Linked DNA regions of Homo sapiens. The protein of the gene in region 1 interacts with the protein of each later gene in a pairwise test. Each region holds a gene or a part of one and is shown on either strand. Other genes may lie near its edges.

What was found. The genes of interacting proteins can lie anywhere in the genome.
Region 2: the proteins of ELK1 (region 1) and FOXE1 interact in binary tests that used the Homo sapiens proteins (3 or more experiments, as listed by UniProt).

What each region holds. Positions count from the first base shown.
Region 1 is NC_000023.11:47,640,564-47,644,063, reverse strand, and holds part of ELK1 (ETS domain-containing protein Elk-1), read left to right. Parts: intron 1-2,588; 5' UTR 2,589-2,622; coding exon 2,623-2,832; intron 2,833-3,500. UniProt on the Homo sapiens protein: Transcription factor that binds to purine-rich DNA sequences. Forms a ternary complex with SRF and the ETS and SRF motifs of the serum response element (SRE) on the promoter region of immediate early genes such as FOS and IER2.
Region 2 is NC_000009.12:97,851,882-97,856,025, forward strand, and holds the start of FOXE1 (forkhead box protein E1), read left to right. Parts: upstream 1-1,344; 5' UTR 1,345-2,033; coding exon 2,034-3,155; 3' UTR 3,156-4,144. UniProt on the Homo sapiens protein: Transcription factor that binds consensus sites on a variety of gene promoters and activate their transcription.

The DNA.
Region 1 (3,500 bases):
CGGACACTTCATGGCTTTGTGACTTGTATAATTGAACAGGAAGCTCATGTTTATTTCCAGTTTGCTCTCAGGAAAGAAAGCAGTAATGGGGTGACAGGGAGGATCCTGTTCTTTGAAGGACATGCTGAGAGGGAATAGTCGGTGTGAGGGGCCGTTTAGCCTAATGGTGAAATGCTTAGTCAACTGGAACCTGACTGCCTGGCTCCAAATGCTGGCTTTGCCACATGTGGCCTGTGGAAGGTACGTAGACATTTGTGCCTCCGCTGCCTCATTTATAAGTTAATGACAGGAAGACTACCTACTTCTCAGAGGCATGATCAGGGATAAATAAGTCAATGCCCATTAAAAAAAAAAATAACAGTACAGGTGTACATGCCCTTACCCAAAACCCCTGGGGCCAGATGTGTTTCAGAATTTCCATTTCTTCACATTTCAGAAAGGTAACATGATGCATATACGATGTTACATAACACCCCTTAGTAAGCTCTGTAATCGGCTGTGTTCATATTTCTGCAGCAAAATGTATGAACACTCGCAATAAGTGAGATTCAATAAAGACCAGAAAGGGCCTTGTTTCATTTCAAATCAGGTTTTGCCACCAAAAGAGTTAAAAGAAGCTTTCTGCCCTTAGAGCATTTTGGATGTTGGAATGGCAGATAAGGGACTATGAACAAATCAGAAACTAATATTTAGAGCTTATCATACACCTCAGGCATATAATATTTAATCTGTACAATATCTCTGTGAACTAGGTATTGTTATCCCCATTTTACTAATGGGCATATCATTATCCCTGTTTTACACATGAGAAAATTGAGGTACAAAGAGGTTAAAGAATATCAGCCAAGCGTGGTGCCTCATGCCTGTAATCCTAGCACTTTAGGAGGCCAGGGAGAGAGGATTGCTTGAGCCCAGGAGTTCAAGAACAGCCTGGGCAACATAGTGAGACCCCATTTCTTAAAAAAAGAAAAAGAATATGCCCAGGGTCACACAGCTAATAAGTGGCAGAACCAGGATTCAAACACTGGCAATCTGGCCCTAGTGCCTGGGCAGTTGTCCAGCAGGCCATATTGCCTCTCTGCTTAGAAGAGTGCCTGATGTGTATTAAGCTCTCAATAGATGTTAATTATTGCTGTCATCAAGAAAGAGAATATTCAGGGCCGAGCACGGTATCTCACACCTGTAATCCTAGCACTTTGGGAAGCCAAGGTGGGAGGTGGGTGGATCACTTGAGGTCAGGAGTTCAAGACCAGTCTGGCCAACATGGTGAAACCATGTCTCTACTAAAAATACAAAAATTAGCCGGGCGTGGTCGTGGGTACCTGTAATCCCAGCTATGCGGGAGGCTGAGGCATGAGAATCGCTTGAACCTGGGAGGCAGAGGTTGCAGTGAGTCAAGATTGTGCCACTATACTGCGCTCCAGCCTGGGCAACAGAGAGAGACTCCATCTCAAAAAAAAAGAAAAAAAAAAAAAGAACGAGAACATTCAGGGACAGTAACAGGACAGAGAGATCAGGCATTCATTCAGTTTTAGGACGGCTTCATAAAGGAAAGGACCTTTGGGCTGGGACTTGAAAGATAAGAAAGACTGCTAGGCGAAAGAAGGAAGCCCCACGTGGAGTGAGCAGCCTTTGCAAGGGTCTGGCAAAAAAAAAACCTCCTGAAAAACTTGACATTGATATGGTAGAAGATACAGATAATATTCAAATGAGGAGGATGGAACTAGTTTTCTATTCTTGCTGTAACAAATAATCACAAATTTAGCTGCTTAAAACAACACATTTGTTATCTTACAGTTCTGTAGGTCAGAAGTCCCACACTGGTCTCAGCTGAAATCAAGGTATTGGCAGGGTTGCGTTCCTTCTGGAGGCTCTAGGGGAAAATCCATTTCCTGCTCATTCAAGTTGTTGGCAGAATCCAATTCCTTGAGATTGTAGGACTGAAGTCCCTGTTTCCTTACTGTCTGTCAGCTGACAGCCATTCCCAGCTTTAAGAGGCTGCCCACAGTCCTTGATTCTGAGCCTCCTTCCTCCATCTTCAAAGCCAACAATGGCAGGTTGAGTCCCTCTCACATTTTGAATCTCCCCTGCCTCTTCTGTCATCACATCTCTGAGCTACCTTTCTTTCTCCATCATCTGCTTTTCAGAGCTCATATGATTAGATTGAATTTCATCAAATAATCCAGAAATAATCTCCCTGTCTTAGGGTTTGTAACCTTAATTTCATCTGCAAAGTTCCTTTCTGCTATGTAGTGTAAATAACATACAGGTTCCGAGGATTAGGATGCGGAGCAGGGTTGGCATCATTTGGCCTACCACAGTCTGCCCTCTGACCCCCACAGATTCACATTTGTTTCACATTCAAAATACATTCACACCATCCTAAGATACCCATGAGTTGTATCCCATCACAGGGAGCATCCCAAGCAAGACTGGGGAGCTAGAAGTTAGTCTGGGAAGGTTTAGGGAATGATGGTAGGGTTTGAAGACAGAGATGGAGAAAAGATGACAAAAAAAGGAATCCTCCTCCCGCTGACCTCTGCCCCTCCTATGTCCACAGCCTCTCAACTCAGCTGTTTGCTCTCCAGGTACCCCTGGGATGGCGTGAGCACTCCCCCAGCGATGGACCCATCTGTGACGCTGTGGCAGTTTCTGCTGCAGCTGCTGAGAGAGCAAGGCAATGGCCACATCATCTCCTGGACTTCACGGGATGGTGGTGAATTCAAGCTGGTGGATGCAGAGGAGGTGGCCCGGCTGTGGGGGCTACGCAAGAACAAGACCAACATGAATTACGACAAGCTCAGCCGGGCCTTGCGGTACTACTATGACAAGGTACAGTCTCTCAGACCAGGGCTGGAACCCCCCCCTGACATTTATATCAGAGATTTTATTTTGTTTTAATTGCCATAGCTATGACTTTGAAAGCAATGTTAAAATTTATCAGTTTTTAACCCATCCATTGGTACCCTAAGACCAGTATTGGGCCCCTAAACACTATCTCACCTACTTTCTTGTCTTACTGCTTTGGCGAAAACCACCACTGCATTATTAATACTGACTCTTTCTACTCCCACTCTGAGATCCCCAAAGTGATGCTGCCCTGCCATGCACAACGTTTCATTTTCCTGCCGTATTCCTATAGCCAACATCTTGAAAACACGGTTAATAATGGCTGGTCCTCATTCTGTCCTCTGAAACCCCTGGACCAGTGCTGGGCTTCCCTAGTTATTTCATAGTCTTCTCTTATTCCAGAATATTTCATATTCCTAGAATCAAAACCTCCCTGACAGTATTATACCAACTTTTGCTTACTTCGTCCTCTGGGACTCCCAACATTTTTAACTAATTATTTTCTTCTCTTATTCCTTAAGCTAAAACCTCTGAAACAACATGTTTAATGCCAACTTCCACACACTGTCTTCTTAAATTCCCAGAGGAGCACTGGTCTACCCCAATATTTATATCAATTGTTTTCATTATCTTATTCCTACAGCTAAAAT
Region 2 (4,144 bases), on another chromosome or scaffold:
CTCCCACACTCACCTGGCACCACCATCCGCGCGGCTCTGCACCCACAGCCCCGGCCCGCCCCCCCCCCCCACCCCGGAAAGCTGCGTCCGGGCTGGAGCCACTGGAACCCGCGCCAAGGCCCGGAATCCTATACGTAGCAGGGGCCTCGGAGATCAGCACACGCCCTCCAGCTGCTATTTAACAGAGTAGAACACTGAGGCCCTGCGAGGGGACAAGGACAGGCCCTGGATCTCCCAGTGAATGGCCAGGGAACGAACCCGGGCCAGAGGGGCCGCGCCGCGAGGATCTCAGGTTAGGACCAAGTTCCGGCTCAGGGACAGCAGGAAAGGAACTCAGAAATTGGACACCCATGAAGCAAACGTGTCCCGACTGCCCGCCCCTTCCCCCGGAGACGCGCCCACCCGGCCACCGCTCTCTTCCCACTCCCCCATTACCCGCAGCCCTCACTCCCCGCTGCGGGAAGGGGCTGCTTGGCTGCCTCTGGGGGTCTTCAGAGCTACCCTGGTCCCGGGGGATTGGAGGAGGAGGTTACCTATCCTGCGTCGTCTTTAATCCGTGCACCACTATCCATCAAATAGAGACAGATCCTGGGCCTCTCAAAGACGGATGATTGGGGGTGGTGATTGGCCTATCCCTAAATATCTACCACGCAAGGACTCTTGAGAGATCCAGACCCCGGTACAGTCGAGGGACCTGGGGCCCAAAAAGGGAAAGCGGCTACCTCTACCACACAGTTGGGAAGCGCAGTCCTAAAGGAGACGCAGGTTGGAGACTCCGCTAAGCGGAGAAGCCGCAGTGGGGCCATGGCAAGTCACCTTCCCTTTCGGGCCTAGGAATACTCATTCGAAAGATGGGGGGACTGGAGTGCCGAGTGGCTGTGGCAGCCACGATTGGGGTTTGGAAACCATCCTGAAAGGCCCGGGGAGCCAGTCTCCTGGAACTTCTCCCTCCCCATTCCCACAAAAACCAAGCGCCCTCTCGGCCAATTCTCACCCTCTCAGGACAAAAAAGTGAGATGAGCCCGTCCTTTCACCTGCGAGTCCAAGCCCTTGGCAGAGGCCTGAAAAGTCCGAAAACTCCGAGTTCGGGCGCTGAGGTCTCCCGAGCCGGTTCCTGAACTCTCCGGGCCTCAGTCGATCGGGGTGCGGAGGGGGCCGACCCGGGGGATCTCCAAGCGCCCTCCCCGCCCTGACGCTGTGGGGCTCCTACCGCGCCGCCACAGCTGCTCCTACCTGGGGAGGTGCGCCCGGGCCCCGGGGGGCGGGCAGTCGGGGGGCGGGCAGGGAACCGGTGCCGCCCCACGCTTCGTGGCCCCTTTAAGGAGGGGAAGCCGGCGGAGGGAGGAGCCGGTCCGGTGTGTGCAGGGGAGCGCCTCGCCAGCGGTCCGCAGGGCTGGAGACCCACGCCGTGGAGAGGACCAGCCTCAGGTCGCCCCGCCTGGGCCCGCGCCCCGACCTCGCTGCCCCCGCCTCGCCTCTCTGCCCGTGGCGCTTACGGCCACCTTGGCCTCGGGGGCAGGGCATGGGCGGCCCCCGCCAGATCGCCCAGCGCCAGTACTAACTGCCCTCGCTCTGGCCTTCGAGCCCGAAGCCTCTTCTGCGCGCACAACCTAGGCAGTAATCCTAAACTAGCGGGCACCACAGACCAGCTGCAGCCACCCCAACCCAGGGATCACTTCCGGACCCCTCGACCGCCCGGCACCAGCGCGCAAGGGACCCTTCAGCCGGAGACCAGAGTCCAGTCCCGGTCACGAGGCCACCGCCGCTGCCCGCCTCGAGAAGCACCACGCGGGCTGAGCCGTCGGCTAGCGGGTCACTCCCGAGCCTCTGTCTGCACCGCGCCAGCCCCAGACCACGGACGCTGAGCCTCCAGCGCGTGCCAGCCTGGGCCGCTGGGCTCTCGGGGCCAGCCCGCGACGATCCCCTGAGCTCTCCGCAGAAGGGCCGAGCGTCCGTTCCGGGGACGCCAGGCCCGCCCCCGCCCCCCGACAGCCGCGGGGATCCAGAGCCCGGGGGTGCGGGACGCCCGCGCCATGACTGCCGAGAGCGGGCCGCCGCCGCCGCAGCCGGAGGTGCTGGCTACCGTGAAGGAAGAGCGCGGCGAGACGGCAGCAGGGGCCGGGGTCCCAGGGGAGGCCACGGGCCGCGGGGCGGGCGGGCGGCGCCGCAAGCGCCCCCTGCAGCGCGGGAAGCCGCCCTACAGCTACATCGCGCTCATCGCCATGGCCATCGCGCACGCGCCCGAGCGCCGCCTCACGCTGGGCGGCATCTACAAGTTCATCACCGAGCGCTTCCCCTTCTACCGCGACAACCCCAAAAAGTGGCAGAACAGCATCCGCCACAACCTCACACTCAACGACTGCTTCCTCAAGATCCCGCGCGAGGCCGGCCGCCCGGGTAAGGGCAACTACTGGGCGCTTGACCCCAACGCGGAGGACATGTTCGAGAGCGGCAGCTTCCTGCGCCGCCGCAAGCGCTTCAAGCGCTCGGACCTCTCCACCTACCCGGCTTACATGCACGACGCGGCGGCTGCCGCAGCCGCCGCCGCCGCCGCCGCCGCCGCCGCCGCCATCTTCCCAGGCGCGGTGCCCGCCGCGCGCCCCCCCTACCCGGGCGCCGTCTATGCAGGCTACGCGCCGCCGTCGCTGGCCGCGCCGCCTCCAGTCTACTACCCCGCGGCGTCGCCCGGCCCTTGCCGCGTCTTCGGCCTGGTTCCTGAGCGGCCGCTCAGCCCAGAGCTGGGGCCCGCACCGTCGGGGCCCGGCGGCTCTTGCGCCTTTGCCTCCGCCGGCGCCCCCGCTACCACCACCGGCTACCAGCCCGCAGGCTGCACCGGGGCCCGGCCGGCCAACCCCTCCGCCTATGCGGCTGCCTACGCGGGCCCCGACGGCGCGTACCCGCAGGGCGCCGGCAGTGCGATCTTTGCCGCTGCTGGCCGCCTGGCGGGACCCGCTTCGCCCCCAGCGGGCGGCAGCAGTGGCGGCGTGGAGACCACGGTGGACTTCTACGGGCGCACGTCGCCCGGCCAGTTCGGAGCGCTGGGAGCCTGCTACAACCCTGGCGGGCAGCTCGGAGGGGCCAGTGCAGGCGCCTACCATGCTCGCCATGCTGCCGCTTATCCCGGTGGGATAGATCGGTTCGTGTCCGCCATGTGAGCCAGCGTAGGGACGAAAACTCATAGACACATCGGCTGTTCACACGTTCCCCGCAATCTGAGAACGAACAGGAATGGAGAGAGGACTCAACTGGGACCCACGTGGAAAAGACCGAGCAGGCCACAGAGGCTCGGTCTCCCCGCGCACAGCGTAGGCACCCGGTGTACTCTGTAAACGGGAGGAGGTGGGGCGAGGCAGCCAGAGCCCTTGGACTGGCACAGGGACCCTCGATGGAGCGAAGCCCTCAAACGGGATGCTTTCTGGTATTCTATCGGGGAGGGTCCTTGGCGGTAACCAGAGGGCAGCGTAGTGTCAACACCAGAGACCAGGATCCAAATTGTGGGGAATCAGTTTCAGCCTTCCATGTGCTGCCGGAACTCGGGCCTTTTTACGCGGTTCGTCCTCTAGTGCCTTTAACTGCGTTACTACAATAAAAGGCTGCGGCAGCGCCTTTCTTCTTAAAGTGAGGAGGACAAATTTGCAAAAGAAATAGGCTTTTCTTCTTTTTTAAATTGGAGAAATCTCTGCTCTGGTTGACCTGGGCTGGTTTTCCCTGTCTCTGAGAACTTGAGACCTAGCTCCGAGTTGAACTGTGCGTCAGCACTCCAGTCCCATCACCTGAACCTTCAGTCTCCCCCATCTGTTACACTAGAGGGCTGCAGGACTCTATCCACCGCCCCCGGGTTATCATTCAGGGCCCCATCATCTTGGATGCTGCCCTGCGTATTTGGCAGCAATGGTGGGCCACCCAGGGCCTCTGAGTAGCCACCCAAAGCCTAGCCGCTGTTCTAGGGAACGGAAAAGAGTTCATGGCCAAGCGTCTAACCTAAAGTCCCAGGATTGGCTCCAGGCAGCAATTATATCATAACTTATTGAACTTTTGAGCAGGACGTGCTGGTAATTTCATGGCTGTTACTGCCCAGTCATAAATCTGCTTTTCCATTATAAGGCAGAGAGAAGTACATTCGTTCATTTGTCCACTGTTTCTT